Homo sapiens: one gene and its partner. The protein of the gene in region 2 purifies or fractionates together with the protein of the main gene of each other region. This does not show direct contact. Each region holds a gene or a part of one and is shown on either strand. Other genes may lie near its edges.

What was found. Proteins that work in one complex are often made in the same cells at the same time.
Region 1: the proteins of OLIG1 (region 2) and ACAD8 purify together in Homo sapiens (affinity purification with mass spectrometry; one large-scale study listed by BioGRID and IntAct). This does not show direct contact.

The regions. Positions count from the first base shown.
Region 1 is NC_000011.10:134,256,568-134,260,067, reverse strand, and holds part of ACAD8 (isobutyryl-CoA dehydrogenase, mitochondrial), read right to left. Parts: coding exon 3,420-3,500; intron 2,981-3,419; coding exon 2,811-2,980; intron 1,554-2,810; coding exon 1,444-1,553; intron 1,061-1,443; coding exon 984-1,060; intron 461-983; coding exon 323-460; intron 40-322; coding exon of another isoform or gene 1-39.
Region 2 is NC_000021.9:33,068,673-33,072,913, reverse strand, and holds OLIG1 (oligodendrocyte transcription factor 1), read right to left. Parts: upstream 2,774-4,241; 5' UTR 2,668-2,773; coding exon 1,852-2,667; 3' UTR 501-1,851; downstream 1-500. UniProt on the Homo sapiens protein: Promotes formation and maturation of oligodendrocytes, especially within the brain. Cooperates with OLIG2 to establish the pMN domain of the embryonic neural tube.

The sequences.
Region 1 (3,500 bases), on a different chromosome or scaffold from region 2:
GTCTCTTCCTGGAGCAACAAAGTGCACCAACGTAAGCAGCTGGATAAGGAACACAGGCCAAAAGCAGAGGCAGGAGAGGTCAGAACACTCACAGGTGGCTTGAAGAATTTACTGGCAAACATTGTCACTTTCCCCAGAGGCCTAGTGTTTAATAATGCCCTGTTGTATTTCATATGCTCCTGTTGAAAATCCTAATAGAAGCAACTGCTTCAAAGGTAGGTTAGCAAGTATGCAAACCTGTTTTCTGAAATAGAGCAGGAGTTGGGCTGGCAGGTGGCAGAGTCTCATAACCTGAATTGTTTCCTGTCCAACAGCCACTCACCTTTTTCTCCTTCTTGCCAAAGCTGAGGCCAGGGGTCCCCTTCTCAACAACTATGCATGAGATGCCCTTGGGGCCTGGTCCTCCTGTTCGGCACATGACCACATAGATGTCTGACTCACCAGCACCACTGATGAAGGCCTGTGGGGGTAAAAGGGGTGCAAAAGGACCAGGGAATGCTTGAGTTCTCACAGCGTCTGGGAACACCACTGGGTCCTCCTGACAATAAGGTCCAATGGCACAGAGACTGACAATAAGGTCCAATGGCACAGAGACTGACAATAAGGTCCAATGGCACAGAGACTGACAATAAGGTCCAATGGCACAGAGACTGACAATAAGGTCCAATGGCACAGAGACTGACAATAAGGTCCAATGGCACAGAGACTGAGGTGAGGTAAAAGGTCGCTGCAGTGACTGCAGATCAGAGAGGCAGTCCAAGAGAGTATAAAAAGGATAGACAAAAGTCAACGAAATGATCTGGAATCAGATTAGGAGAGATACAAACAGTGAGAATAAAGAAAGAGAAATGGGTCAGAGGTTCTCTTCCCAACACATAAAAATCCTATGGGAGTATTAACCCGCGGATGTGAAGGAACCAGAGGATGTCAGGAGGAAGCTGGGAACAATCTCCAAAGTGCTCTGGGAGGACGCACGCTAGTACCTTGGAGCCATTGAGGATGTAATGATCTCCCTGTTTCTTAGCGGAGGTCAGAAGAGAGGCAGCATCACTCCCACTTCCTGAGGAGGGATCAAAAGGCAGCAGAGAGAAGGTGAGAAAGTCAGTGAGGTCGAGGGAGCCCAGCACAATTCTATCTTCTAGGAAATCTTCTCTAAACAGACCCTGCTCAGAGTGTGTCACTGCAAAACCCAAGTGGCCAAAGGAACTCTCTGTACTTGGTGGAAACTGCTCATACCAGTCAGGCCACTGCCTACCTCCCAACACACCAGATAGGCTTCTTGGTCCTTGTGACATCAGGTCACAGGACTCTATTACTCCTCAACCAAACAGCTAGATAAACAGTGGCTCGACATGTCAAGAGGCTGGAAGGAGTGCTCGGTAATGCCATCTGAGCAGGAAGCATCTCTCCCTGCTATATCTCAGTGCAGTGTGGCAAATTCACCTGGTTCAGTGAGGCAGTAGGAAGCAAACTTCTCCATGGTACAGAGCGGTGGGCAAAATTTGTGCCTCTGTTCCTCATTTCCGAAGCTATCAATCATCCAGGCACACATGCTGATAGGTACACCAAGAAGAAAAGACAATGACAGAAATAAAGATGGAAAAGAAAAAAAAATGGGGGAGAAGGGGAAAGAGAACAAAGGGCAGGGCAGTGGAGTAAAGCAGAAGAGTGGGAAGGGGAGAGTCACAATTGGGAAGACTCTTTAAAGGCAAACGGTGGATTAAAACATATTCCTGGAATAAGGACTACCCAGAGATAACCAGGCTGAGGTACTTCTCACCAGCACGTTTGTACTACTTCTAGTTAGGTTACACGAGCCTCTAAAAATCAGAGTTATATGTGCTTTCTATTAGTAGTTTCTATTACTTCCTCAAATCACTGGCAGTTCCATCTTTGGATTGAGGAAAAGGGTGAGAGGGGCCGGGTGCGGTGGCTCACATCTGTAATCCCAGCACTATGGGAGGCCGAGGCAGGCAGAACACAAGGTCAGGAGTTTGAGACCAGCCTGACTAACATGGTGAAACCCCATCTCTACTAAATATGAAAAAAAATTAGCCAGGTGTGGTGGCACGTGCCTGTAATCCCAGCTACTCAGGAGGCTGAGGCAGGAGAATCACTTGAACCGGGGAGACGGAGGTTGCAGTGAGCCGAGGTCATGCCACTGCACCCTAGCCTGGGCAACAGAGCGAGACTCTGTCTTAAAAATAAATAAATAAATAAAAGGGTGAGAGGACCCTGATCACTCTATTGGAGAAGTCTCCTGGTACCAGCTCAAAATAAGATTTCTGAGAAAGCTGGCTGACCTGATTCCCTAAGCAATACACAGGATGACAGAATCAAGTCCAACAGGCAGCAACAGACCTAGCGTGTACTTATTTTATTTATTTATTTTTTTTGAGATGGAGTCTCGCTCTGTCGCCCAGGCTGGAGTGCAGTGGTCCATCTCGGCTCACTGCAAGCTCCGCCTCCCGGGTTCACACCATCCTCCTGCCTCAGCCTCCCGAGTAGCTGGGACTACAGGCGCCAGCCACCACACCCGGCTAATTTTTTGTATTTTTAGCAGGGACGGGGTTTCACCACGTTGGCCAGGCTGGTCTCAAACTCCTGACCTCGTGATCTGCCTGCCTTGGCCTCCCAAAGTGCTGGGATTACAGGCACGAGCCACTGCGCCCGGCCCCTAGAGTGTACTTTTAAGTCCAGTTCCTTGAGGACACTCAGCTTCAAAAGATCAATCTTTTTCCTACGAATCTGAACTCTCACAGTCAGCCCGAGTGAGCACTTCATTGTGCCTTCCAAGCTTGGGCACTCACTTGTGGATGCTTATATAGGCTGTGGTGCTGGTGCAGCCTGTAGCCAAGGCTTCAAAAATGACAGAGGTATCAAGACGTGACAGCCCAGACCCGCCCACATCTGTTTGTATGTAGACCCCTCCGAAGCCTAGCTGGGCTGCCTTCCGCATCACATCCACTGGGAACAGCTCCTATGTACAAAAGAGAGCAGGGTGATCAGCAGCTGATTCAGAGACGGCCTTCCTTTTAGAGGGCACAGTGAGGGATTAGGAGGCTTGCACATGCGACAGCGTATGAATTCTCTTAATATGCCTGTTTGTCATCTTACAGTGGTTATCAGTTAACATGGGTCCTGTAAAAACTTGTTCTGGCATTAAGAAGTTTCTTTTTATTATCTATAGAACTGCCTTAGTTTTATATCCAAATCTTTATTCAACTAACAAAAAAAAAGTTATGTACAAGATGATCAGGATGCCTTCTAGGAAAAATCATCCACTACCGGTATTCTCACTTGCAGTAAGAGTTGGTAAGTGGAGGAGACATTTAACAATTACATTATCAGGAGACAAAGATAAAGGTCTGCCTGAGACATCTGTTGTTAGAACGTCTAAGCACAAGAAAAACGCCTACCTTCTGGTCCCACTCTGCCATATTTGGAGCCATCTCTCGGGCAGCAAAGTCAAAGGCCACTTTTTGAAATTCTTTCTGCTC
Region 2 (4,241 bases):
TTTCTTCACCTCTTAGGTGAAGACAATTCCAACCTGATTTAAATGATAAGGGGTAGGTGGGTGCAGCAGCGGGAAGCTCATGCTTGTGTGGTATTAAGCTTCTGTCCAAGGATATAGAAAAGGTGGATATCCTGGAAGGATGTTGAGCTACAATTTTATGATAAAGGTATTGCTTAACCCATTTTCCAGGGGATGAAGTTGTAGTTAAAAAAGACCTATGCCTGAAGCTTGGCAAAGAATGAATTCCTGGAATTGCCTCTCTCCCTTCTCTATCCCATTCTCTATCCCACCCACCCACTTACCTATAATCCTCATATTTCCCACGAATGCCTGAACTTGAACTACAGTTGCCTGTTCATTGGATTATTTTACAAATCAGGAAGTCACATTTTAAAACCTGGGACCCCGGTCATTTACCTACCTTCACCCCAAGGTTCTAAATCCACTAGGATACAAGGACTTTTTTATTACCAAACAAATCAGACAAAAAATGTAAAAAATCAGACTTTAAATGTTTTATTTTGTTGATTCTGTACACCGTCAGGAAACAAGGTTAGAAGTAAAATAAAGTGCCAGTTAAATTCGGCTACTACCAACAACCAAAACCTTAAACATAGAAAATCAAAGTAAACTGCGGAAAGGTCATAGCATAACCTTGGGTAAAGGAATTTGTTAACGTCTGTAACAAATCGAAACTGACTACGTATGTAGCTCTTCAACTGCAAGACGGCGAGAAGGAAGACCTGCGGGCCGCGCTGGTCAAGGGCCCGGCCCGCTGAGGAACAGCGGAAAGCGCCTTCCCGCCGTCGCCACCGCAGCTGGGATCCGCCGAGCAGCGGGCGGTTCAGGGCTCCCGGTACTCCTGCGTGTTAATGAGAACGTTCATTAGCGCTCTTGACAGGACGGCGACTGTGAGACGCCTGGTTACCTATTTTAGTAAATCGGGAACACTGGATGCAAGGCGGTTGGTTTTCGTTTTTAAGCAAGCTTAAATGTTGGTTACGCTACTTTTGGGGAAAGGGAAACGAAAGGTGAATCTCGAGTTCTAAGTTGCTTTCTAAGAAACCCCCAGGATTTAAGAGCGAAAACTCTCTGCGACAAAACACTGGATACGCGAGTCTTAAATACAGCTCTCCAAACAGCTGGTCTACAAAAGTGGACCCACGTCCCAACCCAGCGCACCCTGCGTTGTCCTCGCCCCTACCCACCGCACCCCGACGCCGACCACCTGTCCGCCGAGGGTCCGTCCGTCTGCCACGTCCCAGACCGTCTGCACCGCCTAACTGGTCTTTTTCTGCCTCTTGAGTTCCGGCAGCCTCCTTTGATAGGACCTGGCCGGCGGGAACAAGGGCGCCCGTGGCCTCTGGCGGAGGAGAAGGAAAAGAACCACCCCTCCGCCCCCGCCACTGCTCGAGCGCAGCCCCTAGTACTGGGAGCCGGCGTGCTCCGCTCCGGGGAGGTAGCGCTCGGGGATGGCCTCTCGCTGCACCCGGGGCGCGCCAACCACGGCAAGGCGCCCTAAGTTCTACATCGGCCCCGCGAAGCGCGCAACTCCAGGGACAAGGAGAGAGATGTGCTGGGTGAGAGCGAGCACTTTCTGCCTAAAGCCGCTGGAACCGACCCAGAACCCCAAACTGCCCCGAGGCGCCATCGAACATCCGCTCTGGTCACTTTAACGTCCCAGGGGTGGGGGCGGGGAAGGGGGTGCCCGACAGTCCCTTCCTCTGGACTGGAAGGTTCGAAATGCTTTCCTTGCTCGGCCTCGCTCTCCCAGACGCAGGGAGCAGGGGCGCGGAGAAGCTGAGCGAAGGGAGGCCGGGCCGAGGTCGCGCCCCAGGCCCAGGCCCGCCCTCACTTGGAGAATTGCGCCTGCACGGCGGCCAGGCCCAGGCTGGCCGGGACCAGGTGCGGGAACTTGCACACGGCGCAGGTGCAGAGGCCGGGGCCGCCTGCGCCGCCGCCGGGGAGAGCGAACTGGCCGCACGGCGGCTCGTCCAGCGCCAGCGACAGGTACTTGGCGGGGCGCAGCGCGTCGGGGGGTCCTACGGCGCCGGGCGCCAGCAGCACGGAGCCGGGCGCGGCGGCGAGCAGGGGCAGCCCGGCCAGCAGCAGGCGCGGCGCGGCGGGCCCGGCGCCCTCGCCCAGCGCGCGGCGCAGCTCCTGCAGCGAGCTGCCCAGCAGTAGGATGTAGTTGCGGGCGAGCAGCAGCGTGGCTATCTTGGAGAGCTTGCGGCCGGGCGCGCCCTGGCAGTGCGCCGCTGAGTAGGGCAGGATGACCTCGCGCAGGGCGTCCATGGCCAGGTTCAGGTCCTGCATGCGCTTCCGCTCGCGGCTGTTGATCTTGCGCCGCAGCTGCTGCTGCTGCTCCTCCTTGGCGTCCGGCCGGGCGCTGCCGCCCGGGTGCGCGCCTGACCCGGGCCCGGGGCCTGGAGGCTCGGCCGGCGCCTCCGGCTTCTCGCGCGCAGCCTTGGGGAGGAGGGGGGCCGTCGTGGAGGAGGAGGAAGTGGAGGAGGTGGAGGAGGTGGAGGAGGAGGAGGAGGAGGGCGGCTGCCTGTAGCCCACCAGCTCGTAGAGGGAGGCCCCGAGCTGCAAGTCTCCGGGCCGCTGTGGCCGCAGCATGGTCCCGGGGACCGCGTTCACGCGCGCCTGGGAAACCGCATAGTACATCTGGGAGGCGGTGGGGGCGGCCGAGGACGCCCTTCAGGAACGCCCTGGGGTGGGCCGGTCGGCAGGCCGCCCCTCCCCGCGGACCTGCGCGCGGGGAAACGATGGTGGGGCCCTGGCCCGCGCCCTACCCCTTTAAACCCGGCTTGGGAACCTGCGGGGCAGCGGGTGGCGGGGCGCAGCCAATGGAGGCGCGAGGCCGGGCGCAGCCGCGTGTTCATTGGCTGCTTGTGCCGGGGCCGCGCGGAGGTGCGGCTGGCACCGCTTTAGGAGGTTATTGTGAGCGCCTGTGCCAGCCGCGCGGGACAGGCCCCCTGAGCGGAGTAAGGGCGCCTTTTCAAGGCAAGCGGGGCTGTTGAAGGAGGACTGGTCGCACTGGTCAGGCTGCAACTCACGTGCCTTCCTCCAGCAACTGTCTACTCAAAAACAACCTCCCTCATATTTTTTTTTAACTGTGATCACATATTCATAACATAAAATTTACCGTCTTATGTTTAGAGTACTGTTCAGTAATGTTATATGCATTAGTGTGCACATTAAATTGATTTAAATTAAATTCACATTGTTGTGCAACCCATCTCCAGAACTCTTTTCAACTTGCAACCCTGAAGCTCCACCCATTAAACAACTCCCCACTCCCCCCGACCCAAGTTCCTGGAATTCACTCTTCTGTTCTGTCTCTATGAATTTGTTCTACTCTAGGTCCCTCATATAAGTAGAATCATACAGCACTTGTCTTTTAGTGACTGGCTTCTTTCACTTAGCATATTGTCGTCAAGGTTTATCCATGTTGTAGCATGTATCAAAGTTTCTTCCTTTTCAAGGCTGAATAATATTCCAGTATATGGATATACCACATTTGGTTTATCCATTCATTCGTTGATGGACATTTGGGGTGCTTTTGGTTGTTGCGAATTATGCTGCTATGAACATGAGTGTATCATGTTTTTTTTTTCTTAAAATACATAATTTCCTGCCAGGTTCAGGTCGCTAAATTTCTGGACTAAATGACAAGTAGCATTAGGATATTTCCTCCCTGCTGCTCCCAACCTCCTTCCCCATCCCTCTGATTGAAAGGTCTTTAGGGACAAAGGAGCCTTTGGGTCGGGTTTCTATCCTCCCCGAAAGGGATGGTCTATCAGCAACTTGACATTTGCTTAAGCAAAAGTCACTCAGAAATTGGCCTCTTATTAGAAACAAAACAAAACACCCACATAGTCCTATCGGTTGAGGGTGGGAATGAATCATTTTATTTGCCAAATAGAATAGCATTACTTGGTGTCTATGGACATTTTCTGCCCCCAGCACCAGTGCATGCTACTATAACTTGTCAATGTCCTGGGGAAGAGGGCATCTTGGTGGCTGTGCTTGCTGGTTTCAGGGCTGCTTTGTTCTGGTTTTCTTCCACCAATATTTGCCACATGGGTTCACTCTGATCTTTGCTTCTGACCCCCAGCTCTGCCTGTAGCATCCTGCCTATGCCTCAGGTTCAGCTCCAACCTTGCTTTCTTCTGGAAGCCTTGGTGATTTCTCCTCTTCCTCCTTTCATGACTCTTGGCAAACCATTGATAGGATTT